Linked DNA regions of Homo sapiens: regions 1, 2, 3, 4, 5 and 7 are each linked to region 6. Evidence: fine-mapped expression QTL. A gene starts in region 6. Each other region holds a variant in brackets. All regions are shown on one strand. Distances are from middle to middle. Region 1 has its middle 16 kb from the start of CXCL11. Region 2 overlaps ART3 (ADP-ribosyltransferase 3 (inactive)). Region 3 has its middle 2.5 kb from the start of PPEF2. Region 4 overlaps NAAA (N-acylethanolamine acid amidase). Region 5 has its middle 8.5 kb from the start of PPEF2. Region 6 holds the start of NAAA (N-acylethanolamine acid amidase). Region 7 overlaps PPEF2 (protein phosphatase with EF-hand domain 2).

What was found.
Region 1: its variant is fine-mapped to the expression of NAAA in NK cells (Schmiedel 2018, PIP 0.95).
Region 2: its variant is fine-mapped to the expression of NAAA in aorta (GTEx, PIP 0.98).
Region 3: its variant is fine-mapped to the expression of NAAA in whole blood (TOPMed, PIP above 0.99).
Region 4: its variant is fine-mapped to the expression of NAAA in whole blood (TOPMed, PIP 0.95).
Region 5: its variant is fine-mapped to the expression of NAAA in whole blood (TOPMed, PIP above 0.99).
Region 7: its variant is fine-mapped to the expression of NAAA in monocytes after triphosphate RNA (Kim-Hellmuth 2017, PIP 0.95).

The regions. Positions count from the first base shown.
Region 1 is chr4:76,050,372-76,054,438 of GRCh38, reverse strand. It overlaps a transcript of ART3 not described here. Among named protein-coding and RNA genes, the nearest start is that of CXCL11, 16 kb to the right of the region's middle. The variant G/AAAAG (reference allele first, on the strand shown) is at 1,725.
Region 2 is chr4:76,076,883-76,080,949 of GRCh38, reverse strand. The region is part of intron 2 of ART3 (ADP-ribosyltransferase 3 (inactive)); the gene reads right to left. Among named protein-coding and RNA genes, the nearest start is that of ART3, 4.2 kb to the right of the region's middle. The variant C/T (reference allele first, on the strand shown) is at 2,081.
Region 3 is chr4:75,902,891-75,906,957 of GRCh38, reverse strand. No RefSeq gene overlaps it. Among named protein-coding and RNA genes, the nearest start is that of PPEF2, 2.5 kb to the right of the region's middle. The variant A/T (reference allele first, on the strand shown) is at 2,277.
Region 4 is chr4:75,917,450-75,921,516 of GRCh38, reverse strand. NAAA (N-acylethanolamine acid amidase) reads left to right here. Exons shown (of 11, transcript NM_014435.4): 6 at 394-566; 7 at 717-779; 8 at 1,542-1,608; 9 at 2,728-2,756. Among named protein-coding and RNA genes, the nearest start is that of PPEF2, 17 kb to the right of the region's middle. The variant G/A (reference allele first, on the strand shown) is at 1,890.
Region 5 is chr4:75,908,963-75,913,029 of GRCh38, reverse strand. It overlaps a transcript of NAAA not described here. Among named protein-coding and RNA genes, the nearest start is that of PPEF2, 8.5 kb to the right of the region's middle. RefSeq lists enhancers at 2,514-3,435, 3,436-4,067. The variant C/T (reference allele first, on the strand shown) is at 1,863.
Region 6 is chr4:75,939,040-75,943,106 of GRCh38, reverse strand. NAAA (N-acylethanolamine acid amidase) reads left to right here and starts at 2,094. Exons shown (of 11, transcript NM_014435.4): 1 at 2,094-2,363; 2 at 2,942-3,106. The coding sequence starts at 2,158. RefSeq lists silencers at 1,872-2,341, 2,742-2,811.
Region 7 is chr4:75,857,754-75,861,820 of GRCh38, reverse strand. PPEF2 (protein phosphatase with EF-hand domain 2) reads left to right here. Exons shown (of 17, transcript NM_006239.3): 17 at 901-1,954. The coding sequence ends at 1,154. Among named protein-coding and RNA genes, the nearest start is that of PPEF2, 43 kb to the left of the region's middle. The variant C/A (reference allele first, on the strand shown) is at 1,619.

The sequences.
Region 1 (4,067 bases), 110 kb before region 6:
TTTTTTTTATATTCGCACTCTCAACTATATCTATTTAAAACATTAAGTTTAATAACACTTAGTTCAAACTGGCAAATGATGTGTCCTGAAATACTCCTTATAAATGGTCATTTTACTATATTCTATTTTTTAAAAATACAAATAAATCCAATGAAGCTTCATACCTTGCAGACATAGCTCTTCTAACATTCACATGCAGGGGTCATCTCTCCAAGCAAGCTCCTTTGTGCATTTATTCTCTTTCCAACTAGCCCTGAAATAATATCGACCAGATCTATTTTCTCCTCTCCTCCAGCTTCTCTGAGTAGCAGAAGCAATAAACTAATAATGGTAAGTGAAGCTACTATTTCTCCCTTCTTACTGAATCAAGCTTCCTTCAGTTAGTCGCTTGTAAAGTTGCTCATTGCTTAATCTCTCACGTTTCTATCCCCTAACAATAGGCATGTTGTTTCCCAACTTGAAAAATTAACATGAACGTCTACATTGACCTGGCAGTTGTCGAGTGCAGTCATTTTCCAGGCAGCCAACTAAAGGCCATGCACAGAGCTGCTTTGTTGTGAGAAACATGATTTCTCTGAAGTTTATGGTGATGCTGAAGTTGTTTTGTACAACCCACTGTTCCTGGCTCACATACATACAAATGACAGCAAACATTCTGACAGAGGTACAGAGGACATGGAAAAGAGGGTTAGTCTATTCAATGAGCTGGCAGAACTTGATCATTTCTACTTCTGTGTTCTAAATTTTAACATATGCGACTTTGAATTTTACCTACAATTTTAAAGGAAAGTAATTGGTTTTAAACCCATATTCTTTTTTTCTTCTGAATTCCTGTGGAAATAAATTAAGTAGCTTTTCTTTGACGACTGTTAATTATACCCTAATAAAATTAACTTGGCAGTAGACTTGGCAAAAAGTAATATTCCAAGGCAATTAAATTTGGTTATAGATAAAACAAACAATATTTATATACTGTGCTTTGCCAGGTTGAAAAAAGAGACAAATAATAGCTAGTTTTTTTTTAGTAACTCTTCTACCAAAAAGGTAGAGAAACACTGTTTTCTTTTCAGAAGAGGAATGGTAGATCAAACTCTTAATTAATTTATAAGAAAATGAGAGAGCTGTAGTTAATAAATCAGGTATAGCTTAAATGTTCCAGGAAGACTCTTCCTGTGCAATAAATTTAATTAAGCCAATGAGAAACAATCCAATTCCAGTGACAAGATAGAGATAACCTGTACGTGATCAGCATGAACAGGCATAGTTAAAAAACAAAGTAAATTGAACTACCAGTAACTATTTTTCAAATCCTTAATCACTGGAAACTAAAGCTTATTTCTTCTTTTTGTGCTCAACTTTCAGGGAACAAATAACTGCCCTTCCTTTAAAGTCAGAAATTTGGTACACACCAGCTGGGTGCAGGGGCTCATGCTTATAATCCCAGCATTTTGGGAGGCTGAGGCAGGTGGATGGCTTAAGACCAGGAGTTTGAGACCAGCCTTGCCAACATGGTGAAACCCCGTCTCTACTAAAAATACAAAAATTAGCCTGGTGCGGTGGCACAGGCCTGTAATCCTAGCAACTTGGGAGGCTGAGGCACGAGAATTGCTTGAATCTGTTTGCTTGAATCTGGGAGGCAGGGGTTGCAGCAAGCCGAGATCGTGCCCGTGCACTCCAGCCTGGATGACAGAGCAAGACTCTGTCTTAAAAAAAAAAAAAAGAAG[G/AAAAG]AAAAAAGAAATTGGGTACACGCATGTTCTCACTTACAAGTGGGAGCTAAATAATGTGTACACATAGACATAGAGTATGGAATGATAGACAGTGGAGACTTGGAAGGGTTGGGGGCGGTGGATGATGAGAAACTACTTAATGGGTACCATGTACATTATTCTGGTGATGGATACACTAAAAGCCCTAATTTCACCACTATGCAATATATCCATGTAACAAAATTATATTTGTATCCCCCAAATTTATACTGACAAGGAAAGGAAAGGTAGATGGCTACCAGTGGCTCTCTCAAGCATGAGAAGTTCCGTATGGTGATACGGTAGTCACTGAAAACTGGCCCTTATTCTGTGCATGCACTTGCGACTGCAATGTTTGGGGTAGCACATATCAAGGATGAAGTCATCCTTATAAAATGTGAGCATTGATATATCTCATTCTCAAATACCAGACTACATTAGCAGAATACAACCTTTGGAAATCTCTTCTTATGTCAAAGTCCCAGAAAGAGATAAAGCATATTGACCAGGCAGGTCTCAAAATCCTGACTTCAGGTGATCTGCCCACCTCAGCCTCCCAAAGTGCTGGGATTACAGGCGTGAGCATGGCGAAACCCCGTCTCTAATAAAAATACAAAAAAAATTAGCTGGGCATGGTGGCAGGCGACCGTAATCCAGGCTACTCGGCAGGCTGAGGCTGGAGAAAGGCTTGAACTCAGGGGCGGAGGTTGCAGTGAGCTGAGATTGCGCCATTGCACTCCACTCCAGCCTGGGCAGCAAGAGCGAAACTCTGTCTCAAAAAAAAAAAAAAAAAAAAAAGAGAGAGAGAGAGATACAACATAAACTCAGAAACATCCTTATTTAAAATTCATTGTCAGCCAGGTACAGTGGCTTATGCCAGTAATCCCAGCACTTTGGGAGGTTGAGGTGGGAAGACCACTTGGGCACAGGAATTCGAGACCAGCCTGGGCAACATGGCGAAACCCCAACTCTACCAAAAATACAAAAACATTAGCTGGCTGTGGACGTGTGTGCCCATAGTCCCAGCTACTCAGGAGGCTGAGGTGGGAAGATGGTTTGTGCCCGGGAGGCAGATACTGCGGTCAGCCGAGATCACGCCATTGCACTCCAGCCTGGGCGATAGAGCAGGTCTAAAACAAACAAACAAAAAATTCATCATCACTTTGGAACTCTTTTCAATGGCATTAAAACATGCATTATTCCTCAACGTCTTAATGATTTTAATGTTATTTATACAATTTACTCCAAGTTTTGATGAAAAAAATAGAGCCTTACCCAGTGCCTAATGGCTACCTTGAATATAGCCTGCAGAATCTGTCTCATTTCTGGGACGGGTATTTTAATAATATTATAAGAAACTCACAGTAGTATTCTACTAAGAACTCTTAAAAAAAAATCCACCGGCAGCTCCCTAAAGTCATTGGCATGCCTAAATCCCTCTAAAAAACAGCATCAGGTACTATACTACTGTACTTTTGAGAGGTGACAGTGTGCTGGCAGTCCTCACAGCCCTCGCTTGCTCTCGGCACCTCCTCTGCCTGGGCTCCCACTTTGGCGGCACTTGAGGAGCCCTTCAGCCCACTGCTGCACTGTGGGAGCCCCTTTCTGGGCTGGCCAAGGCCGGAGCCGGCTCCCTCAGCTTGCAGGGAGGTGTGGAGGGACAGGCGCCAGCGGGAACCAGGGCTGCGCGTGGGCTTGCAGGCCAGCTGGAGTTCCGGGTAGGCGTGGGCTTGGCGGGCCCCGCACTCGGAGCAGCCCGCCGGCCCTGCCGGCCCCAGGCAATGAGGGGCTTAGCACCCGGGCTAGCAGCTGCGGAGGGTGTACTGGGTCCCCCAGCAGTGCCAGCCCACTGGCACTGCGCTCCATTTCTCATCGGGCCTTAGCTGCCTTCCTGCGGGGCAGGGCTCAGGACCTGCAGCCCGCCATGCCTGAGCCTCCCACCCCCTCCATGGGCTCCTGTGTGGCCCGAGCCTCCGCGACAAGTGCCACCCCCTGCTCCACGGTGCCCAGTCCCATCGACCACCCAAGGGCTGAGGAGTGCGGGCACACAGCACCGGGACTGGCAGGCAGCTCCACCTGCAGCCCTGGTGCGGGATCCACTGCGTGAAGCCAGCTGGGCTCCTGAGTCTGGTGGGAACATGGAGAACTTTTATGTCTAGCTCAGGGATTGCAAATACACCAATCGGCCCTCTGTATCTAGCTCAAGGTTTGTAAATACACCAATCAGCACCCTGTGTCTAGCTCAGGGTTTGTGAATGCACCAATTGACACTCCGTATCTAGCTATTCTGGTGGGGCCCTGGAGAACCTTTGTGTCGACACTCTG
Region 2 (4,067 bases), 140 kb before region 6:
AGGGTGGTGTAATGTAATTAACACCACTTTGAAGCCAGGCAGATCAGAGTTCAAATCCCATTTGTTACTAACTAGGTATGGGAAAGTTACTTGACATTTCTAATCCTCAAGTTTTCAATTTTAAAAAAAATTAGGATAAAAGGCCAGGTGCAGTGGCTCATGTCTGTAATCCCAGCACTCTGGGAGGCCGAGGCGGGCAGATCATGAGGTCAGGAGTTCAAGACCAGCCTGGCTAACATGATGAAACCCCATCTCTACTAAAAATACAAAAATTAGCTGAGCGTAGTGGCAGGCGCCTGTAATCCCAGCTACTTAGGAAGCTGAGGCAGGAGAATCGCTTGAAACCAGAAGGCGGAGGTTGCAGGGAGCGGAGACTGCACCACAGCACTCCAGCCTGGGCAAAAGAGCAAAACTCCATCTCAAAAAATAAAAAATAAATTAAAAAAGGAAGACAAAGTGGAGGAAATAGTATTTAACTGTGGGATGGCTGTGAGAATTAAATTATGTAATGAACATATGCAAAGCCCTCTGCCCCATGCCTGGCACATATCAAGTCTTTAACATGCCGTGGTTATTATTATTTTTTCATAAGGTCTTTCTCCAGTGTGATGTGGTTTTTTTGTATTATTTCATGCTAGGAATATATGTATTATACTGTTAGATCCTTAAGGGTACGGTCTGTATCGTTTTTATCTTTGAATCCTACACACCTAGCACAGAACCTGGCAAAATATTCAAGTGAACTACATTAGAACCCTGTACTCTGGCTTATGGATCAAAAAATAAGATGATCAAATCTCCCCAGGAATACCATTTATGAGTTTCTACAAATAAAAGGATAATGCCTCTTCCATTAGTCTATACTTGTATGGTGCATAGTTGCATAAGTCTGCTTAGGGACCTCAGTTGGAGACTTTATAGACATATTTAGCTAGAAGCTGTTAAAGTTACAGATTCAAAAAAAAAGTTACAGGTTCTATGTGAATGATACTTAAAAACTCTCTCTCTCTCTCTCTCTGTGTGTGTGTGTGAGAGAGAGAGAGAGAGTGAAAGAGAGAGAGACAGAGAGAGAGAGACAGAGATACTAACTTGTAAACGCAAAACAAAACTTGCTTCCATATCCTGCTCTAGGTATCTCCTTTCCCATCTCTCTTCTCTCCCTCACGAACAAACATCTTGAAAGAGATGTCTGTCCTTGCCATCTCCACTTCATTTCCCACGTATAGCTCAACCCTCCCCATTATGGCTTCCCACCCATTTCTCCACCCAAACAGCTCTCACTTAAGGGAGCATTTCTTCTTAGACTCTTTTGCAGACCCAACATATTCCAGTTAGCCATTAAATGTTGGAGTTCCTCAAGGCTACGTATTTTCTAACTCTCAACTCTACGCTCCCCAGGCAGTTATATACATGCTTACAGTTTCAATTATGATCTAAATATATCTGATCTATCCTGTAAGTGCCAGTCCTATATATCAAATTTATCTGCCTACTTAACACCTCCACTTGAATGTTCAAAGAACCTTCATACGTAACATGTCTAAGACGAAACTTACAATCGTACAGCCACAACGACCTGGTTCTTATTTAAAACCATTTTTCATTTGTGAACTTTTCCTACATATTTCCTTCTCAGACACACTGGGTGGACACTCTATCACTAAGTTTAACAAACATCTCCAGAGTTCTTTCTATATGCCAGGCACTAAGTGTTCGGCAACCTTGTGAGGTAGGTACTATTATTAGCCCCCCGCCTTTTTTTTTTTTTTTTTTAACAAAGATGAGGAAACTAAGAGATTGAGACTTACATGGAATTGGAATTTGATCTCAGGCAGTCTAATTCCAGAGTCTTGTCCTTTTTTTTTTTTTTAGACGGAGTCTCGCTCTGCCGCCCAGGCTGGAGTGCAGTGGCACTATTTCGGCTCACTGCAAGCTCCGCCTGCCGGGTTCACGCCATTCTCCCGCTTCAGCCTCCCCAGTAGCTGGGACTACAGACGCCCGCCACCACGCCCGGCTAATTTTTCTGTATTTTTAGTAGAGACGGGGTTTCACCATGTTAGCCAGGATGGTCTCGATCTCC[C/T]GACCTCGTGATCTGCCTTTCTCGGCCTCCCAAAGTGCTGGGATTACAGGCGTGAGCCACCGTGCCCGGCCGTCTTGTCCTCTTAACCAAACTGTTCTGTTGCCTCTAAAGAATCAGAATGTTTCCAATTATGAAGACCATGGACATTTATGTAGCACTTGAAAAAGAGTGTAATTCTGTCTTCATTACAACATTTATAAAAGGTTAACAAAAAATAGTTAACACCATTTTACAAACGAGGGAATTGTGCCAGCTTCAGAAACTATCTTGATTACTAGCCACAGAGAATTCTGCCATGGAAGTCATTAAGACCCCCGTAGTCCTGGGTTTGTAGGTCAGTTTCCTGACATGGGAATTTGAGCTTCAGGAGATCAAATCACTGCCATCTCATAGCCAAGAAATGCACTTTCCTCCACAGCACAGAATGTACCAGAGTGCAGCTTGGGTGCCAATGCCTGATTTATCTTCAAGACTTCAACACCGTATAAGACACCAGACCCTGAAAACACCTCCCACATTCCTTACATTATATCAGAGTTGATCTACTATGTTCCTGTCTTTTCCCTATGCCTCTAACCAGTCTCCAAATGTCTAATTTTAGACATCAAGTCTTTCTGGCCAGACACCATAGCTGATTGTGTATTTTGTATGGTGCGTGCCTTGAGCAGTGACAAAGTTCATAAATGCCACCACTATTCAGGGACAACTGAACAGATACTAAAAAACAGGTACAAAAGGCTAGGTGAACAAGCTGATTATATTTCTCTGATATAACCACCGAGAAAAAAAGCCCATACTAATGAAATTCAATTACCAAAAATTTCTTACAAAAATATGGAAATGACCTAAAGGTCAAGGAGAGAAACTGGCTAAGCAAATCATGAAACAATTACAGAACAAATACACTTAAATTATGTTGCAAGAGTATATTGAAAACCAAATCAAAACCACAATGAAATACCACTTCATATCCTCTACGATGGCTATAAATGATGAAAAACCAAGTAACATGTAACACAAGGATGCAGAGATATTAGAATCCTAATATACTGCTGGTGGGATTGTAATACCATGCAGCTAGTGTGAAAAAGTTTGGCAGTTCCTAAAAAAGTTAACATAAAATTACCGTACAACCCAGCAATTCCACTACTAGGTGTACACCCAAGAGAAGTGAAACATGTTCACAACAATAGGTAATTTTGCTATGAATCATAAATCATAACCCCCAAATTCATTCTTACATATATATTTCCTATATATAAGTAAACTTTACTCTGTAATGCTACCAAATAACCAAATAGTGTTTGTAGTATCTCAATATGTCAAGACTATATGATTAGAAAATTTTTTAAAAAGAAAAATAAAACACATGTTCACATAAAAACTTGTACATAAATGTTCACAACACCACTATTCGTAATAGCCATAAAGTGGAAACAGCCCAAATGTCCATCAGCTGATAAATGGATAAACAAGATGCGGTACGGCCATAAAATAGAATATTACTCGGCTATAAGAAAGAATGAAGTACTGATAGGACTCCTGAGAACATTATGCTAAGTGAAAGAAGCCAGACACAAAAGGTCACATATTGTATGATTCCATTTAGGCGAAATATCCAGAATAGGCAAAACCATAGACACAGAAAGTAGACAGTGGTTGCCAGGGAATGGGGGATGGAGAAAATTGGGGCTGACTGCTAATAAGTACAGGGTTTCTTTTTGGGTTGACGGAAATGTTTTGCAATCAGATAGTGGTGATGGTTGCAGAACATAATGAATATACTGAAACCACTGAAGTATACAGCTAAAAATGGTGAATTTTTATGGTATGTAAATTATATTTCAATAAAAAACATACTGCGACACAGGAAACAGGATACACAATGATTCTATAGAAAATGGATTAGAATATTAAATTCAAAAAAGGATAACAGTTTAAGAATTTAAGATATTTTTAAAAAGGCATCTAAAATGGTGCACAAATA
Region 3 (4,067 bases), 36 kb after region 6:
AGCAAGAAGTAGAGAGTGGTTGTCAAAGGCTAAGGGGCTGGGGAAATAGGAAGTTGCCATTCAACTGGTGTAAAGTTTCATTTATACAAGGTGAATAACTTCTAGAGATCTGTACGTCGTGCCTATTGTACACTTAAAAATCTGTTAAGAGGCCAGGCGTGGTGGTTTATCTTATAATCACAGCACTTTAGGAGGCGGAGGTGGGGGTGAAACAGGAGAGTTCCCTGGCTCCCCTTGCAGGACACTCAACAGGGGTGTTGATCTCTGTTCAGCTGCCACAAGCTCAAACCCCTTATAGGAGCGGGAGGATACAGACAGGCAGGTGCAGGAACCAGAGTGAGCGCTTTTGGGCTCTGGCCCCAGGGCAGCTTCTAGGGGTGGTGCTTTGACTCCTGAAGCCCCAGTAGGCATGCTACAGTGCTCTTTTAACTCTGCCATCCACAGATGGCTTAAGTGTTAACCAGCTCAGTGTCCCCTTGGTACCCGGGCCCTTGTCCAGCACCCAGAAAGAATCAGGTTACACACAGACTTGAAGAGTGGTGAATATGGGGGTTTTATTGAGTGGTGGAGGTGGCTCTCAGCAGGATGGATGGGGAGCTGGAACGGGGACGGAGTGGAAAGATGATCTTCCCTTGGAGTTCAGCAGTCCTGTGGCAGAACTCCTCTCCAACTGTCCCCAGCTGGACTCCTCTAGATATTCAGATGCTCCTTCTCTGCCATGCCGTTCTTCAGTTCTTTGGCTCTTCTGCTCATCTCCTCATGGACCCAGGGATTCGGGGTTTATATGGGTACAGGATGTGGGGTGTGGCGGGCCAAGATGCAACATTTGGGCACGAAAACAGGAATGCCTGTTCCCATTTGGGGCCTCGGGTTTCCAGGCTTGAGGGTGGGGCTTTTGGCAGGTAAATAAATCAAACAAAATAAATAACTTTCCAGTATTTCCCCGTCTCCTGTTCATATCAGGAAGATTGCCTGGGTCTATGAGTTTGAGACCAGCTTGGGCAACATAGTGAGACCTCTGTCTCTACAAAAATAAAAATATTAGCTGGGAGTGGTGATGTGTGCCTGTAGTCCCAAGTACTTAAGAGGCAGAGGTGGGAGGATCACTTGAGCCTGGGAGGTCGAGGCTGCAATGAACTGTGGTCATGCCATTGCATTCTACCCTGGGTGACAGAGTGGGATCCTGTCTCAAAAAAAGAAGAAAATCTGTTAAAAGGGTAGATTTCATGTTGTGTTCTTACCAAAATAAAATAAATTTTAAAAACAAGAGGCAATAAAATTTTTTAATTAAAAAGTTAAAATTTATTTTTTTATTTTGAGACAGCATCTCACTCAGTTGCCCAGGCCAGAGTGCAGTGGTGTGATCTCTGCTCACTGCAATAGCTGGGACTACAGACACACACCACCATCCCCTGCTAATTTTTTGTATTTTTTGTAGAGACAGGCTTTTGCCGTGTTGGCCTGGCTGGTCTTGAATTCCTGACCTCAAGTGATCCACCCACCTCGGCCTTTCACGTGCTGAGATTACAAGCATGAGCCACCACGCCTGGCCTAAAATAAATAAATAAATAAATAAAATTGAAAATTTTATTTAAAAAATTTTGGCTGGGCGCAGCAGCTCACACCTGTAATCCCAGCACTTTGGGAGGCCGAGACAGGTGGATTGCATGAGCTCAAGACCAGCCTAGACAACATAGCAAAACCCCATCTCTACAAAAAATACAAAAATTAGGTGGGTATGGTGGCACATGCCTGTGGTCCCAGCTACTTGGGAGGCTGAGGCAAGAGGATTGCCTGAGTCCGGGAAGGTCAAGGCAGCAGTGAGCTGTGATTGTGCCACTGCAAATACCAGCCTGGGCAAGTAAGACCCGTTCTCAAAAAATATATATATATTTTTAAATAAAAATGGCTTGGCCTACAGAGCTTTCATGGCAGATGGAGAGAGCTGGTTTTCAAAATATTCTGTTTTTAAAAAGTACACAAGTGACTGGGCATCACCATGCTCACGCCTGTAATACCAGCACTTTGGGAGGCTGAGGCTGGCGGGTCACCTGAGGTCAGGAGTTCAAGACCAGCCTGACCAACATGGAGAAACCCTGTGTCCACTAAAAATAAAAAATTAGCCAGGTATGGTGGCACATGCCTGTAATCCCAGCTACTCAGGAAGCTGAGGCAGGAGAATCGCTTGAACCCAGGAAGCAGAGGTTGCAGTAAGCCGAGATTGCGCCATTGCACTCCAGCCTGGGCAACAAGAGCGAAACTCTGTCTCAAAAAAA[A/T]AAAAATAATAATAATAAGAACACAAGTAACAGATTTCTAATATAAAAATAAATCAAACAGTACATAATGTGATCCTCTGCCTCTCTTCCCCACTTGTGGATGGCACTCTCCCCATGAGTACCCCTAGTGATAACTGCCATCTGTACTCATTAAGACATTTAAAAATGCATAAACGTTTTAAAATGTAGATTCTATTTTTATTCAGGTATGATAAGGCCAACAGATCAGGGGACAATTGCCATTTAAAAGATAGCTTATTACTCCTCGTTCCCAAGAGGAGAGGTCACACCTGCACAGCCACGGGAGAGAACACTGAGGTTGGTCACAGGCAGAGGACAGGAGAACTGTGGTTTTCGAGGGAAGGAATGGGTGAGGCAGGGTAAGGCGGCTAAGCAGGTGGAGGACTAGCTAGTTGGAATAGTGTCAGCTGACTCCTGACTGTAGACTGCACTGAGTTGTCTGATATATGATGTCAGGGTGATTAGGGTAGAGAGATAACGGCCTTGAGTATGAAAGTCCAAAAAAGGAGGGATTTGGTGGTAGGGCTCTAGATTGGTTAGTTTGCATCTCAGGGATCAGCTAATCCCAGGAGGTGTAGTCTCTCCCTGGTCAACAAGGCCCCAAAATGTCAAAGCATCAATATGGAAACTAGAAAATATGGGTAATACCACATAAAAAAATATCTTAGGTTATTTTCCAACTTTTCCTAATCACAAATTATACAGTAATAAAAATCCTTATATAGATTTTTGCATGGGTGTATAATTCTGTAAGATACTTAGAAGTATAATTTCTAGATTAAAGGATTTACATATTTTAAGTATGTAATTTAATAAATTACAATTAAAATTTAATTTAATTCCCCCAAAATGAAACATTTTAACGATCCCAGCAATAGTATATGGAGAGGGTCCTTTTTCTCATACTCTCAGTAATACAGGATTTTATCAGTCTTTTAGTCAACTTGGAGAAAGAATGTTAGCAGTCAGCCACTAACAAAAACTAAGCTAATGTGAAAATGTTAATATCAGACAAAAGAGAATCAAATGCAAAAAGAATTTTAAAAGGCAGAGTGATATTTAATTTTTATGTCACCCTCTACCAAGACAGTTAAATGACAATACGGCTTCATGTGTAATTACACAGTTGCCGATGGCAATTTTACATGGTTTAAATTTAATATCTAATTATATAGCTTCAAAACGTGTAATGCAAAGACTCAAATACAAGGAGAATTTGCTAAATCTGTACTTGTCATAGAAATCTTCAAAATACCTCTTTCAAAGATGGTCAGATCAGGAAGAATAAACAAAGATAAAGAGGATCTGAATTAATATAATTAACAAATTTAGGCCGGGTGTGGAGGCTCACACCTGTAATCCCAGCACTTTGGGAGGCTGAGGTGGGCAGATCACTTGAGGCCAGGAGTTGGAGACCAGCCTGGCCAACATGGAGAAACCCTGTCTCTACTAAAAATAGAAAGACTAGCTGGCCATGGCAGCGGGGGTGCCTGTAATCCCAGCTACTCGGGATGCTGAGGCATGAGAATTGCCTGAACCCAGGAGGCAGAGGTTACAGTGAGCTGAGATTGTGCCACTGCACTCCAGTCTGGGCGACAGAGCAAGACTGTCTCAAAATAATAATAATAATAATAATAATAATGAACAAACTTGACCTACTAGATATAGACAAACAGAATATCACTTTCTTTGAGAATTTCCATGGTGCATTTAGTACCTACCAGAACACACACACGAGCATCTTAGATTAACTGAAAAAGTAAGTTGTCC
Region 4 (4,067 bases), 22 kb after region 6:
CACTGCTCTATCCCCCACCAGCACAGTGCCTGGCACAGTGTAGATATTCAAGAAAACCCTGTTTAAATAATAAATGAATGAAGAAGCACAAAAAGTCCTTTGTGAGGGCGATCTGCCTGGAGAGCACACAGCCGGTGTTTGCTGAGCCAGGCCTAGGGCTTGTCAACAGTTCTCTCCTCCTGTCAGAATTTCCTGCTGCTCCTGGCTCCGCTTTGAAGCTGAAATTTCTTCCATCTTAGGAGCCCTGATAACAAGAGGATAAGGTCAGAGCAGATCAAGGTGATAGTCATGACATAACATATCAGGAGAATGTGCTTTGGATCATTTTTGCATCATCTGGTGTGGACCCAACTGCAGGTGGGGTTGCTCACGCAAGTTCATCCTTTCGTTCAGACCCTGAGTGAGTCGGAAAACTTCGAAGCAGCTGTTGGCAAGTTGGCCAAGACTCCCCTTATTGCTGATGTTTATTACATTGTTGGTGGCACGTCCCCCCGGGAGGGGGTGGTCATCACGAGGAACAGAGATGGCCCAGCAGACATTTGGCCTCTAGATCCTTTGAATGGAGCGTAAGTAGAATTGAAAGCTCTGGTCATTTTGTATCAGATAATCATTTTTTTTAATCGGTGAAATGAGGGGTATTTTAAATTTGTTCATATGTCTCCTCTGCTATGTCGTAAATTGCCTTGGATAAGACAAGATGATGTGCTCTGTTGTAGGTGGTTCCGAGTTGAGACAAATTACGACCACTGGAAGCCAGCACCCAAGGAAGATGACCGGAGGTAGGCTGCTACGTGCTTTCTGGTTTGCAGTGTTTTCTTATGGTCAGGAGAATATGCCCATTCTGTCACAGGAACTGGCAAGACCTATGGGTGCTATCCTCTCCCAGAAAATGTACCTGAGCCCCTTCGCCAGTGCCTTGGCTGGGAAGGGAGTGTTGTGTGGAGGAGAGCAGTGGGCAGAGCCTCTCAGCAGCTGGGCGGGTGTTGGGAGGCTGTCAGGGTCAGGAGCCCTAGAGCCCACCACCAGCTCTGCTAGTGACTCACTGGGTGGCTCTCGGGCCTCTGTTTACCAGTCTGTAAAATGAAAGCAAAGGGCCAGGTTCATGGTCTTCTAGGCAAGATATTTTTAGAAGGAAATTATTTCCCTTATTTAAACAATAAATAAACCAGTCAAGGGTTTTTATTGTCCCTTCAAGTTGTAAACATTCTATAATTATAAGTCAGCACAGTTCCAAAGTGCAGGTAGCTATATACGTTGCCTTGGCTTTACTACCCCACAAGTTTGGCCACTGTTCAGTTCTGCAGCCACACATTTTCATCATCCCAGCTTTCTGGAGCAGATGGTGCCAACCGTCCCAGCTGCTGGATGAATTCCACTGTGGTGGGCTGGGCCTCAGCAGGAAACAGGCTTGGGGCCAGAATCTGTTTTGGAGAAAGGGAGATAATGAGACTGGAGCTTGCATTCTGCCTCCCAAAAATGACAGCTGATGGGCTTCAGTGCTTGTTGAAATGCCAAGTGACCTTCGACCTTTGTCCTTACAGAACATCTGCCATCAAGGCCCTTAATGCTACAGGACAAGCAAACCTCAGCCTGGAGGCACTTTTCCAGGTAACTTGTGTCACAGTGTCCTGCATACCTAGGATGTTTGGTGTTTTGTTAATAGTGAATATGAAAAACTCCGTGAAATCTTCTGGTAGATGAAAACGTTAGGGTAAAAGTTTTATTTGGTTGAAATCATGTATTAAAAGTGGTGGCTCACACCTGTAATCCCAGCACTTTGGGAGGCCTAGGCAGGCAGATCACGAGGTCAGGAGATTGAGACAATCCTGGCTAACACAGTGAAACCCTGTCTCTACTAAAAATACAAAAAATTAGCCAGGTGTAGTGGC[G/A]GGTGCCTGTAGTCCAAGCTACTCCAGAGGCTGAGGCAGGAGAATGGCGTGTACCCGGAAGGCGGAGCTTGCAGTGAGCCGAGATTGCGCCACTGCACTCCAGCCTGACAGAGCGAGACTCCGTCTCAAAAAAAAAAAAAATTATATGACATTTTCTCAACTTGCTTTTATATAAGTTAAAATGTCCATCTTCACCAAAGTTTTTCTTTATATTAAAAAGAAAAAGTCATAGTTGTAATATATGTTCATTGTTTAAAAGAAAAAAAGAGAAAGAATTAAAAAGTCAGGCCGGATGTGGTGGCTCACACCTATAATCCCAGCACTTTGGGAGGTCAAGGCAGGAGGATCACTTGAGGTCAGGACTTCGAGACCAGCCTGGCCAACATGGTGAAACCCCGTCTCTACTAAAAATATATAAATTAGCCAGGCTTGGTGGTGTGTGCCTATAATCCCAACTACTTGGGATGCCGAGGCAGGAGAATCGGTTGACCCTGGGAGGCGGAGGTTGCAATGAACCAAGATCATGCCACTGCATTCTAGCCCAGGTGACACAGCAAGACTGTCTCAAAAAAAAAGTCTATATCACCTCAAGGTACACTAAAGAGTGGTTATGTTCTTTCTACAGACATTCTTTTTTTTTCTTTTTTAGTAAAGACAGGGTCTCTCTATGTTGCCCAGGCTGGTCTTGAACTCCTGGGCTTGAGTAATCCTCCCACGTCGGCTTCCCAAAGTGCTGGGATTACAGGCCTGAGCCACTGCACCCGGCCCTCCATAGATATTCTATGTGTATTTCTTCTACCATGTAATCTTCTCTATAAAATGACTTTTTCCTATGCAGATTTTGTCGGTGGTTCCAGTTTATAACAAGTAAGTGGCTTGTTAAACATGTCTGTTCACACATCACTCCAGAACAGTGAACTCACTCACGTACTGTTTGGCTCAGCAAGGATCTGAGGGCTCCTGTAACCAGGCTGTGGGGGCACTCCTGTGGGGGCACTCCTGTGGGTACAGCTGCGAGCAAAACAAAGTCTCTGCTCTCATGGGACTAATATGGGTGGGGTGGGGGTGGTGGTGATAAACAAATATAAATCAGGTGAGAAGTCCATGAAGAAATCCAAAGGTAAAAAGAATAGAGTGACCCTGAAGGAGGCTCTGGGAATTTTTTTTTTTCTTGAGCCAGAGTCTCGCTCTGTCACCCAGGCTGGAGTGCAGTGGCGCAATCTCGGCTCACTGCAAGCTCTGCCTCCCAGGTTCACACCATTCTCCTGCCTCAGCCTCCCAAGTGGCTGGGACTACAGGCTCGTGCCACCACGCCCAGCTAATTTTTTGTATTTTTTAAGTAGGGACAGGGTTTCACCGTTTTAGCCAGGATGGCCTTGATCTCCTGACCTCATGATCTGCCCACCTCGGCCTCCCAAATTGCTGGGATTACAGGAGTGAGCCACTGCGCCCGGCCAGCTCTGGGAATCTTAAATTCAAACTTGGCCTTCCATAGTGTTGTCAAACTAGAAGGAAAAACACTTTGACTGGCTGACCTCTTGATTCCTACATTTGAAATATTCTGGCAGTGAGGTGTTCATCCTAACTCAGTCAGGTAGCTGTGGACAGCCTTCACCTGTTAGGAGCTCCTTAGAAATAAATTCTGAATACCTTTGGTTTTCTTTTATCCTCCGGAGGAATTTCCACTATCTCCGAAGCTGTTCCTTGTTCCACTGACAATTCGCTTAGTTAATGTTCTTTTTTAGCCTGTACCCTTGATAGCAGCATTCTGTGAGCAATGGTTTCTCTAGTGTATAGCCTAGGATTTTACTCACATTCTTTTTAATTTCTTTTTCTTTTTTTTTTTTTTTTAAGTGAAAGCAGGCCAGGTGCGGTGGCTCACGCCTGTAATCCCAGCCCTTTGGGAGGCCAAGGCGGGTGGATCACTTGAGGTCAGGAGTTCAAGACCAGCCTGGCCAACATGGTGAAACCTCGTCTCTACTAAAAATACAAAAATCAACCAGGCATGACGGTGCACGCCTGTTATCACAGCTACTTGGGAAGCAGCGGCTGGAGAATTGCTTGAACCTGGGAAGTCGAGGCTGCAAGTGAGCTGAGATCATGCCATGGCAGTCTAGCCTGGGCAACAGAGCGAGACTCTGTTTCAAAAAAAAAAAGAAAAGAAAACTAATTAGTCAG
Region 5 (4,067 bases), 30 kb after region 6:
CATAGTGAGTAGAATGTCTAGAAGGAAGTGTTATCCAGGTACAGAACATCGCTCCCCTGACATACTGCAGACGTCTCTAGTGGCCCAGAATATTCGTGTTTCTTCTTGGACAGTGTCGTATAAATACCGTTTAATTTTCATCATCCAATGCCCTTTTAAAAATCAAATATGAGAAGTAGTTTACTCATGCCAGCTGTATCACACATCACACAGCCATTGAAACTAGAAATTTCTACTCATTAGTCTTTTTTTTTTTGAGACAGGGTCTTGTTCCACCACCCAAACTGGAGTGCAGTGGTGCAATCTCGGCCCACTGCAAACTCTGCCTCCAGGGTTCAAGCGATTCTTGTGTCTCAGCCTCCTGAGTAGCTGAGATTACCGGCATGTGCCACTATGCCCAGCTTATTCTGTATTTTTAGTAGAAATGGGCTTTTGCCATGTTGGCCAGGCTAAATTTCTTTTTTTTTTTTTTTTTCCAGACAGAGTCTCCCTCTGTCACCCAGGCTGGAGTGCGATGGCACGATCTCGGCTCACTGCAACCTCCGCCTCCTGGGTTCAAGCGATTCTACTGCCTCAGCCTCCCGAGTAGCTGGGATTACAGGCGTGTGCCACCATGCCCGGCTAATTTTTGGTGTTTTTAGTAGAGACAGGGTTTCACCACGTTGGTCAGGCTGGTCTCGAACTCCTGACCTCATGATCTGCCCTCCTTGGCCTCCCAAAGTGCTGGGATTACAGGCGTGAGCCACCGCGCCCAGCCTGGCCAGGCTAAATTTCTACTTATTAGTCTTATTCCATTTTTGTTTTCTTGAAAATATGCCATGATCTTCGGAAATTTGGGGAATACCCTAATTTTAACCAGGCAAAGCGAAGGCATTGAGGGCTGTTCCTCAGGAAAATGATTTAAGTAATCCAACACTCTAGTTGCTTTTCAGATATTTGTCCTTTTTGTTGAAACCGCCTTTGCAAAGATGATGACAGTGAGAGAAGTCTAGCATGGCTGACTCCATCTTCCTTCTAGCCTCACAGGCTGGCTGTCCTTGCTCGTTCCTGGGCACAGACCAAGCTAATCGTGGGAGGAATTTAGTTTAGAGTTTAACTTTAAAGAAAGGATGATAATAACCCCACCCTCAGACTAACCTCTGCCCTGCTAGGGAGTAAAGCCACCTTTGTAAAACTAATGGAAGGCTATGAGATTAGGATTATGGGAAGAACCCGAATTCTGCTAAATGTAGGCGTAGTTTCTATAATCCCTTACTGCTCAGGAGTCATGTGGCTAGAAGTCAAAGATTTGTGACTTCCCCAATTGTTCCTGTAGAGAACATCACTACTATAGCACCTAAGATTGGTCTTTTGAGATGTTTTTCAGACTTTTGCATTCTGGCAACCACTGGACCCCACCAGGACCTGTGACCATGAGTCAACTAGTCCTGTGGCCCTCACCCAAAGGGCATACTCAGTGCATAAAGACTGTTTTCCATACCCCTGTAATTTCATCCCCAATCAGCAACCCCCTTCCTTAGCCCCCAGCTCACCAAATTATCCATTAAAACCCTAGCCTCTGAGTTCTTGGAGAGACTGATTTGAGTAATAACATCCATGCTCCTGCTAGGACTGTTAATTGAACTCTTTCTCTACTGCAATAGTATGATCTCAGTGAATTGGTTTTGTCTGTGCAGTGAGCAAGAAGAACCCATCAGGTGATTGTCAGGCCTCTGAGCCCAAGCTAAGCCATCATATGCCCTGTGACCTGCACGTATACATCCAGATGGCCTGAAGCAACTGAAGATCCACAAAAGAAGAGAAAATAGCCAGTTCCTGCCTTAACTGATGACATTTCACCATTGTGATTTGTTCCTGCCCCA[C/T]CCTAACTGATCAATTGACTTTGTGACAAGACACCCTCCCCACCCTTGCAATAATGTACTTTGTGATATTCCCCCGCCCTTGTGAATGTACTTTGTACGATACACCCTCCCCACCCTTGAGAAGGTACTTTGTAATATCCTCTCCGCCCTTGAGAATGTACTTTGTAAGATCCACTTCCTGCCTGCAAAAAATTGCTCCGAACTCCACCGTCTATCCCAAACCTATAAGAACTAATGATAATCCTACCACCCTTTGCTGACTCCTTTTTTGGACTCAGCCCACGTGCACCCAGGTGATTAAAAAGCTTTATTGCTCACATGAAGCCTATTTGGTGGTCTCTTCACACAGATGTGTGTGACAGTGATAACAGTGTCACGTGGTTTAACTACAATGTGTCCAGATATTGAATTTTGTTTAAGCCTGCTTGGGATTTGTTGTGCTCCCCAAATTTCAAGTTTGTGTCTTTTGTTCAATTTTGGAAAATAGTCAGCTATCTCAGAATTGCTCACCTACATTCTCTTGTGTCTTTTCTCCTGAACTTTAAGTATGCTGAAGGAGCTCAGAACACACTACCCCAAATATGCCACTTTGGTATAAGGACTATTTTGAGCTAAAGGCACTTACAAAACCAGCAGGGAAAAGAAATTCACTCTGACCCTCCCCATTTTCTTCCTGAAAACAAGAGATAAAATCTCCATTTGGAAGATGTCCTTCCAATATCAGGAGGAAAGTAACACTCTTATCAACAATCTAAATGTCCATCTAGGCATGAATGGATAAAGAAAATGTGGTATGTACACACAGTGGAATATTATTCATCCTTTAAAAAGAAGACAGACAGGCACAGTTGCTCACATCTGTAATCCCAGTTACTCGGGAGGCTGAGGAGTGCTTAAGCCCAGGAGTTTGAGACTAGCCTGGCCAACATAGCAAGACCTTGTCTCTAAAAAAAATGTTGTTTAAGGCTGGGCGTGGTGGCTCACGCCTATAATCCCAGCACTTTGGGAGGCCGAGGCAGGTGGATCACAAGGTCAGAAGTTCGAGACCAACCTGGCCAATATGGTGAAACCCTGTCTCTACTAAAAATACAAAAATTAGCTGGGCACGCACCTGTAGTCCCAGCTACTTGGAAGGCTGAGGCAGGAGAATTGCTTGAACCAGGAAGGTGGAGGTTGCAGTGAGCTGAGATCACGCCACTGCACTCCAGCCTGGGTGACAGAGTGAGACTCTGTCTCAAAAAAAAAAAAAAATTTGTTTAAACTTTGCTGGGAATGGGGGTGTGCACCTGTAGTCCCAGCTACATGGGAGGCTGAGGTGGGAGGATCACCTGAGCCCAGGAGTTTAAGGCTGCAGTGAGCTATGATCATGCCACGGCACTCCAGCCTGAGCAACAGAGTGAGAACTTGACTCTAAAAATTAAAAAAGATGGTCTCGCTGTGGGGGAGGAAAAATCAATTCCTCTACCCATCTTACGTTCTCAGCTGGGGCCTTGTAAATTAGACTGACAAAAGACAGATTAACATAACAACAAAAAAGATTAACAATTGAAAAAACAAATAGAAGTTGATTAACATATGTACAGAATACGCAATATGGAGTACCCAGAGAAGAGTAACTCAAAGGTTTGTTTTGAACTTGTTTTTATATGGCATCTTAGCAAAGGAACTATAAATTTTTAGAGAAGTGACAAGACAAAGGAAAAGGACCTTGAGTCTCTCGGGGCAGCAAATTGTGGGAAGGAAAACATATAGTAACAAAAGATAGATGAAAGTTAATTGGCTGGGTGTGGTGGCTCACACTTGTAATCCCAGGACTTTGTGGGGCTGAAGCGGGCAGATCACCTGAGGTCAGGAGTTTGATACCAGCCTGGCTAACATGGTGAAACCCCATCTCTTCTAAAAATACAAAAACATTAGCTGGGCGTGGTGGCGGGGACCTGTAATCCCAGCTACTTGGGAGGCTAAGGCAGGAGAATCACTTGAACCTGGGAGGTGGAGGTGAAGGTGAGCCGAGGTCACACCATTGCACTCCAGCCTGGGCAACAAGATCGAGACTCTGTCTCAAAAAAAAAAAAAAAGTTAATTATATGAATTGGGTCATTCTTGTCATGACCAACTAAAAAAGTCAAGACCAGGTGCGGTAGCTCAGCGCTTTGGGAGGCTGAGGCAGGAGGATTGCTTGAGACTAGGAGCTTGGGCAATGTA
Region 6 (4,067 bases):
GCAGGAAGGTCCACTTCCACCATGGCTCACTCAGATGACTTGACAAGAAGCCTCAGTTCCTCTCTGGCTCTTGGTAGAAGCTCAGTTCCTCAACAAAGGGACTTTCTTTTTTCTTTTTTTTCAATTTTATTTACTTCTTTTTTGGAGACAGGGTCTCACTTTGTCATTTAGGCTGGAGTACAGTGGCGTGATCATAGTTCACTGCAGCCTCAAATTCCTGGGCTCAAGTAATCCTCCTACCTCAGCCTACCAAGTAGCTGGGACTAAAGATACATGCCCCCATGCCCGGCTAATTTATTTTTATTTGTTTGTAGAGATGGGGTCTCACTGTTGCCCAGGCTGGTCTCCAATTCCTGGGCTCAAGCAGTCCTCCTGCCTGACTCTCCAAGTGCTGAGATTTGTGTCCAGCCACAAAGGGACATTTTCATAGGGCTTCCTCAGGACATGACAATGGGCTTCCTATAGTGAGCAATTCAAGAGAGCAAGGAGAAACCCACAGTGTCTTTTGTGACCTAGTCTTGGAAGTCAACCACCAGCAATTCTGATTCTATTCATTAAACCAAGTGACCTCAGATGATCAGCCAGCCAACGTGCTGGGATGACAGGCGTGAACCACCATGTCTGGCAAGAAATTTTGTAATTCCTTTAAGTGTTATCCTTAAAAACAAGTGATTGATTATAAAAGTTGTATTTCTTCATCCTAAAATTGGTAAAAAATAAAAAAAAAATGTGTTTAGTTTCTACTATGCATTTAGTTTTTTTTTTTTTTTTTTTTTTTTTTTTTTTTTTTTTTTTTTTTTTTGAGACAAAGTTTTGCTCTTGTCACTCAGGCTAGAGTGCATTGGCACAATCTCGGCTCACTGCAACCTCTGCCTCCCAGGTTCAAGAGGTTCTCCTGTTCAGCCTCCCAAGTAGCTGGGATTACACCACCACGCCCGGCTAATTTTTGTATTTTTAGTAGAGACAGGGTTTCACCATGTTGGCCAGGCTGGTCTCAAACTTCTGACCTCAGGTGATCCACCCGCCTCAGCCCCCCAAACTGCTGGGATTACAAGCCTAAGCCACCATGCCCGGCCCTTTCATTTAGTTTCTACTATTCATGTACACATGTACCCTGTTTTACCCACAGACAACTGTGCTAACCGTTAAGAATGTCCCAGCCTTACTAAGATTTTCCTAAGTTTGTCTCCCAGACATTGGGAACTCAAAGGTGAAGAAACTTAGGTGTGAAGGTGGATTGTGGATTCAGACCTCCTTACTTGGAGGCCAGTGCAGAGACACACCAGCAGAGTAACCTCGGGTACATGGCTTCACCTCTCCAAGCCTCACACTCCTCATCAGTAAAGCGAGGATTAGTGGAACCTACCTGTTGGCTTGTTTTGATGATTAAATGAGATAATGTCCGCGAAAAATATTTAGCAGATAAATGTTCACTAAATTTTGAGCTTTAAAAAAATGTTTTACCAGCCAGGCGCGGTGGCTCACGCCTGTAATCCCAGCACTTTGGGAGGCTGAGGCCGGTGGATCACCTTAGGTCAGGAATTCGAGACTAGTCTGGCCAACATGGTGAAACCCTGTCCCTACCAAAAATACAAAAATTAGCCAGGTATGGTGGTGGACGCCTGTAATCCCAGCTACTTGAGAGGCTGAGGCAGGAGAATCGCTTGAACCCAGGAGGCGGAGTTGGCAGTGAGCGGATATCTCGCCGCCGCACTCCAGCCTGGGCAATAGAGTGAGACTACATCTCAAACAAACAAACAAACAAGCAAACAAAGTTTAACTGAAAAGTCTTTCCTGACACCTTTTCGCTACTGAAAATCTTACAGCCCCTCCCGGCCGCAGCCTACACTCCTTCGGCCCAAGCAGGTGCGCTGGAACCGGCAGTTGGTGAGAAGCCGGCTGCCGGCAGCCCCAACCCTTAGCGGCCCCGCGGTCAGGGACCTCCAGGCCCGATGGAGAGTCGGGGCGGGCTAGTGGATGCGCGGCGGGGACGGGAGGTGTCGCCGCTCCGGCTTGCCGGTGACAGGGGCGGGCGGGTCGTGCGCGGGCCCCACCTCCAGCGATCGCAGCCCAGCCCCAGCTCCTCCTCCTCCACGGCTTACCCGGGCTCCGACAGCGGCTGCAGGTCTCCAAGTTGCGGCCGCTGGAGCCCGAGCCATGCGGACCGCGGACCGGGAGGCGCGCCCGGGGCTTCCGTCCCTGCTGCTGCTGCTGCTGGCCGGGGCCGGGCTGTCAGCCGCCTCGCCCCCAGCAGCGCCGCGCTTCAACGTGAGCCTGGACTCGGTCCCCGAGCTGCGCTGGCTGCCCGTGCTGCGGCACTACGACTTGGACTTGGTGCGCGCCGCGATGGCGCAAGTCATCGGGTGAGCTGGGGCCCTGGACGGGGTCTGCGGGGACACCGGCCCTGCGGGTCGGAGTCAAACGCGCGCTGCTCAGAGTGCTTTAAACGGGGACGCTTTACTCCCCGCCACCCTTGGAGAACTGGTTTTGGCTGCCGCCCTGAGCAGCGTCCGGGTTGGGGAGAATCCAGCGCGGCAGGTTCGGCTTTCAAGTTCGGTGTCACCCGTGGCACGCCAGTCCTTGAGCCATTCCGGGTCAGCGTGGCGCGCGAGTTGTCGCCCGGGCTGCATAGCTACCAAGGAGGGGCAACCCGCGCCTTCCTTGCGGGCCTCGCGGGCCTTCCAAGCTTGCCCCTTTGGGACCAGCCTCACTCGCCCTCCCCATTCGGAGTTTTCTTACCCGCCGCCTTCCCCCCGCCCCCTTCCCCCCACTCCCGGGAGGCTGCAGATTGAGTGACGCCGCGCCTGGGCGGTCCACTGACTGGGGAGCAGTGGCCCTGAGACCTCACGCCCTAAGGATGTAGCCCCGCTCGCAGTGCACACGCAGTCGCACGCCGCCGACCTCTGAGCGGGTCAGACGCCCTTGTGCTTTTTGTTTCTAGGGACAGAGTCCCCAAGTGGGTGCACGTGTTAATCGGAAAAGTGGTCCTGGAGCTGGAGCGCTTCCTGCCCCAGCCCTTCACCGGCGAGATCCGCGGCATGTGTGACTTCATGAACCTCAGCCTGGCGGACTGCCTTCTGGTCAACCTGGCCTACGAGTCCTCCGTGTGAGTGCCCCAAGCCCGCGCGGAGTAACGCGGGGCTTGCGGGGGCCCCCGACACAGACTAGCGGGAGGAGACATATTTTCCGTGTGATAAAAACAGGGCGGTGCCTGCTTGCCTAGAAACCTCCAGCGCTTCCTCTTTGCCTCTCTGGGTAAATCTGAGCTGCACATCGTAGGCTTCGAGAGGGAAAGCAGATTCTCCGATTCAACACTAAACTTTCCCTCTACGTGTAGCCCCGGGTTTTCTCTTCCCCAATCCAGGTAGCGTACTTTTAAAATTCTGCTCAAAGGCCGGGCGCGTTGGCTCACACCTGTAATCCCAGCACTTTGGGAGGCCAAGGTGGGCAGATCACGAGGTTAGGAGTTCGAGATCAGCCTGGCCAACATAGTGAAACCCCGTCTCTACGAAAAACACAAAAAATTAGCCAGGCGTGGTGGTGGGCGCCTGTAATCCCAGCTACTTAGGAGGTTGAGGCAGGAGAATCACTTGAACCCGGGAGGCGGAGGTTGCAGCGAGCCGCGATCGCGCCACTGCACACCAGCCCTGGCGACAGTGCGAGACTCTGTCTCAAAAAAAAAAAAAAAAAAATTCTGCTCAAAACGTACTTTTCCAGGAAGTTTTTGAAACTAAGCCTCCTCTCATCTGGACCCTTTAGTTAACTCAGTGGCCTTCCAGCTCTATACTGGCAGTGGCTCATCTCTGCCCTTATTTGTCGCCCTGCATTTATCCTTTCATGTGTGTCGTGGCTGAAGTGTCTGTGTCCACCAGGGCTGGGGCGACAGGGAACACTGCTCTAATAGGGCCAGCCAGTGTTTGGACCGGGAAGTGGGCATGATAAAATGTGCATCCAGGCTGGGCGCGGTGGCTCACGCCTGTAATCCCAGCACTTTGGGAGGCCGAGGCGGGTGAATCACCTGAGGTCAGGAGTTCAAGACCAGCCTGGCCAACATGGTGAAACCCCGT
Region 7 (4,067 bases), 81 kb after region 6:
TGGCTAACATGGTGAAACCCCGTCTCTACTAAAAATACAAAAAATTAGCCGGGAGTGGTGGCGGGTGCCTGTAGTCCCAGCTACTCGGGAGGCTGAGGCAGGAGAATGGCGTGAACCCAGGAGGCAGAGCTTGTAGTGAGCTGAGATTGTGCCACTGCACTCCAGCCTGGGTGACAGAGCGAGACTCCCTCTCAAAAAAAAAAAAACTGTTGCATAACCTAAGATCACAAAGATTTACACTTATGTTTGCTTCTAAGAGTTTTAGAGTTTTAGCTCTTACATTTAGGTCTTTGATCCATATAGAGTTAGTTTTTTTTATATAGTGTTAGGTAGGTATCTAGCTTTACTCTTTTTGCATGTGAATATCTGCTTGTCCCCCATCATTGTTGAAAAAAACTATTCTTTCCCCATTAAATGATCTTGGGACCCTTGTAAAAAAATCAATTGACTATAGATGTATGGGGTCCAGAGGATTTTAATGGCCAGAATAAATTAGGATATGTTTGAGATGATTAAATGCAGGGTTTCTCAACAGTGGTACTGTTGATAATTCTTTGTTTTAGGGTCCATCTTGTGCATTATAAGATGTTTGGCAGCATGTCTGGCCTTTATTTATTAGATGCCAGTAGCACCTCACCTCCATCTTAGTCATAACAAACAACAATGTCTCCAGACATTGCCAAATGTCCCCTGGAGGGAGGGGAGCACAATTACTCCCAGCTGAAAATCATTGGTGAGCCAGTGGGTTTGTGTGATCCTCTTGGGAGTTTAAATTAGATACTAGGATTTGTGTGTCTCTCTGTTGAGCAGTAGGGAGCAGGTGTCCTTGTAAGAATGTCAGAGAAAATGAACATTAAAAACTAGACTAACTCACTGAAGTGATTTCCTCCCTCTGATAAGGGTTCATCTCACTGGACGAGTTCAGGCAGACCTGGAAGCTGTTCAGCTCTCACATGAATATCGACATTACAGATGACTGCATCTGTGACCTTGCTCGGAGCATTGATTTCAACAAAGATGGCCACATTGATATCAATGAGTTCCTGGAGGCCTTCCGCCTTGTGGAGAAATCCTGCCCAGAGGGCGATGCCTCAGAATGCCCACAAGCTACAAATGCTAAAGACAGTGGCTGCAGCAGTCCAGGTGCACACTAAGAACAGCCTGGTCTTCATCACCCAAAGTGCCTCATAGGCAATGCTCAGCTTCTCACTAGACTATCTCCCTTATTCTCCATGTGAAACTTTATGCTGAAAATTTACCTATCCATATGCATCAGAATCACCTGTGTATTTCAGTGTGGAGGGGTGGGTTGGGGTGTTGTGTATGTATGTGTTTTAAGTATATGAGTGCCCCAACCCCACCTCACAATCTTCACAAAGTAGAACTTAGGTATAGTGTTTTCAAATTCTAAAGTCCACTTCAGTTAAGAACCACTGACAATGTAACTCTCTCATTGTTTTCATTTTATACGTTTTTTTGAGATGGAGTTTCTCTCTTGTTGCCCAGGCTGGAGTGCATTGGCGCGATCTCGGCTCACCGCAAAGTCCGCCTCCCAGGCGATTCTCCTGCCTCAGCCTCCTGAGTAGCTGGGATTACAGGCATGCACCACCACACCAGG[C/A]TAATTTTGTATTTTTAGTAGACACAGGGTTTCTCCATGTTGGTCAGGCTGGTCTTGAACTCCCAACCTCAGGTGATCCACCCTCCTCAGCCTCCCAAAGTGCTGGGATTACAGGCATGAGCCACCGCACCCAGCCTATTTTATACTTTTTATTTATTGTCTTTAACAATGTCTATTGGTAAAGGAAAGTTATTTTTAAAAATTGTATTGTAATTCCATGACCCAAGCATATGGATTTTCTTCATTATTTACTTTTTCTTACTTGTTACTGTAGTGTTTATATAATTTTATGTTCTACTTTTAAAAAAATAAATTAATATCTAATTGTAAACCCTTTCCCATGTGCTTCCCTTGTGATTCTGTATTCTTCATGATAATTAGTTTAATGCTTGCATAATTTTCTTTGAAGTGAATGTGCTATAATCTATGCAGCCCTTCTCCAATTGTTAAACATGTGTATTATTTCCACTTTTTCATTATTAGAAATAACACTAGGGAGAGTGTTAGGACAAATACCTAATGCATGCGGGGCTTAAAACCTAGATAACAGCCGGGCGCGGTGGCTCACGCCTGTAATTCCAGCACTTTAGGAGGCTGAGGCGGGCGGATCACGAGGTCAGGAGATCGAGACCATCCTGGCTAACACGGCGAAACCCCGTCTCTACTAAAAAAATACAAAAAATTAGCTGGGCGGGTGCCTGTAGTTCCAGCTACTCGGGAGGCTGAGGCAGGAGAATGGCGTGAACCCGGGAGGCGGAGCTTGAGATCGCGCCACTGCACTCCAGCCTGGGTGACAGAGCGAGATTCCATCTCAAAAAAAAAAAAAAACAAAAACCTAGATGACAGGTTGATAGGTGCAGCGAACCACCATGGCACATGTATACCTATGTGTATACATATGTGTAACAAACCTGCATGTTCAGCACATGTAGCCAAGAACTTAAAGTAAAATAAAAAAAAAAAAACACTGTAGTTAATAACATAGTGCATACAGCTTATTTTACACAAATCTTTTGAATTTTACATTTTAGTGGTATAAATTCCCAGGAATGGGATTACTTTGACAAAGGATGTTGTATTAGTCTAGGTGCTTCAGAGAAACAGAACCAATATGAAATTTACATAAGTATTTACTATTAAGAATTGGCTTACATGATTATGGAGGCTGAAAAGTCCTAAGATCTGCAGCTGGCAAGCTAGAGAACCAGGAGAGCCAATGGTGTCAGTTACAGTCTAAGTCCAAAGGCCTGAGACTCAGAAGATCCAACGGAGTCAGTTCCAGTTCATGTTTGAGTAGGCAGGAAAAAACCAATGTCCCTGCTCAAAGGCAGTGAGACAGAGAAAAATAACTCTTTCTTATTCAGCCTTTTATTATATTCAGGCTTTCAACAGATTGGATGAGGTCCACTCACCTTGGCAAGGACAATCTCCTTTACTCAGCCTACAGATTCAAATGTCATATCTCATCCAGAAACATCTTTACAGACACACCCACATATAATATTTAACCAAATATCTAAATATCCTGTGGCTCAATCAAGTTGACACGTAAAGTTAACCATCACAGGTATGAACATTTTAATGGCATGATACGTATTGCCAGGTTGCTCTTCAGAACTGGGCATACCAATTCTACCATAAACTCATAAGCTTTTAGTGGGATCATTTCTAACTTATGCAAAAGGTGAATGATAGTGCTTCCATGATATTTTACTATGCATTTATGTAATTAACATCCAATGTTGGGAACAAGCCCCCCAAAATCTGGACATAAACTGGCCCCAAAACTGGCCATAAACAAAATCTCTGCAGCACTGTGACGTGTTCATCATGGCCATAACGCCCATGCTGGAAGGTGGTGGGCTTTCCAGAATGAGGGCAAGGAACATCTGGCCCGCCCAGGGCAGAAAACTGCTTAAAGGCATTCTTAAGCCACAAACAATTGCATGAGCGATCTGTGCCTTAAGGACACACTCCTGCTACAGTTAACTAGCCCAAACTATTCCTTTAATTTGGCCCATCCCTTCATTTCCCATAAGGGATACTTTTAGTTAATTTAATATCTATAGAAACAATGCTAATGACTGGCTTGCTGTTAATAAATACGTGGGTAAATCTCTGTTCAGGGCTCTCAGCTCTGAAGGCTGTGAGACCCCTGATTTCCCACTTCACACCTCTATATTTCTGTGTGTGTGTCTTTAATTCCTCTAGCGCTGCTGGGTTAGGGTCTCCCCAGCCAAGCTGGTCTTGGCAATCCAAAGCTGTCTCCACAACCTTATTTTATTTATAAACTAAGGAAATTGAGGTTTAGAGAACTTGCTGTGTATATGTGATCTAAGTTACTAACACAGCCAGGACTGGAGCCCATGATTTCTGCCTCCACCTAGGATTCTTTCCAGTTATACCCATGACTGTATTATCTGTTTGGATTGTCTATATACAATCTATG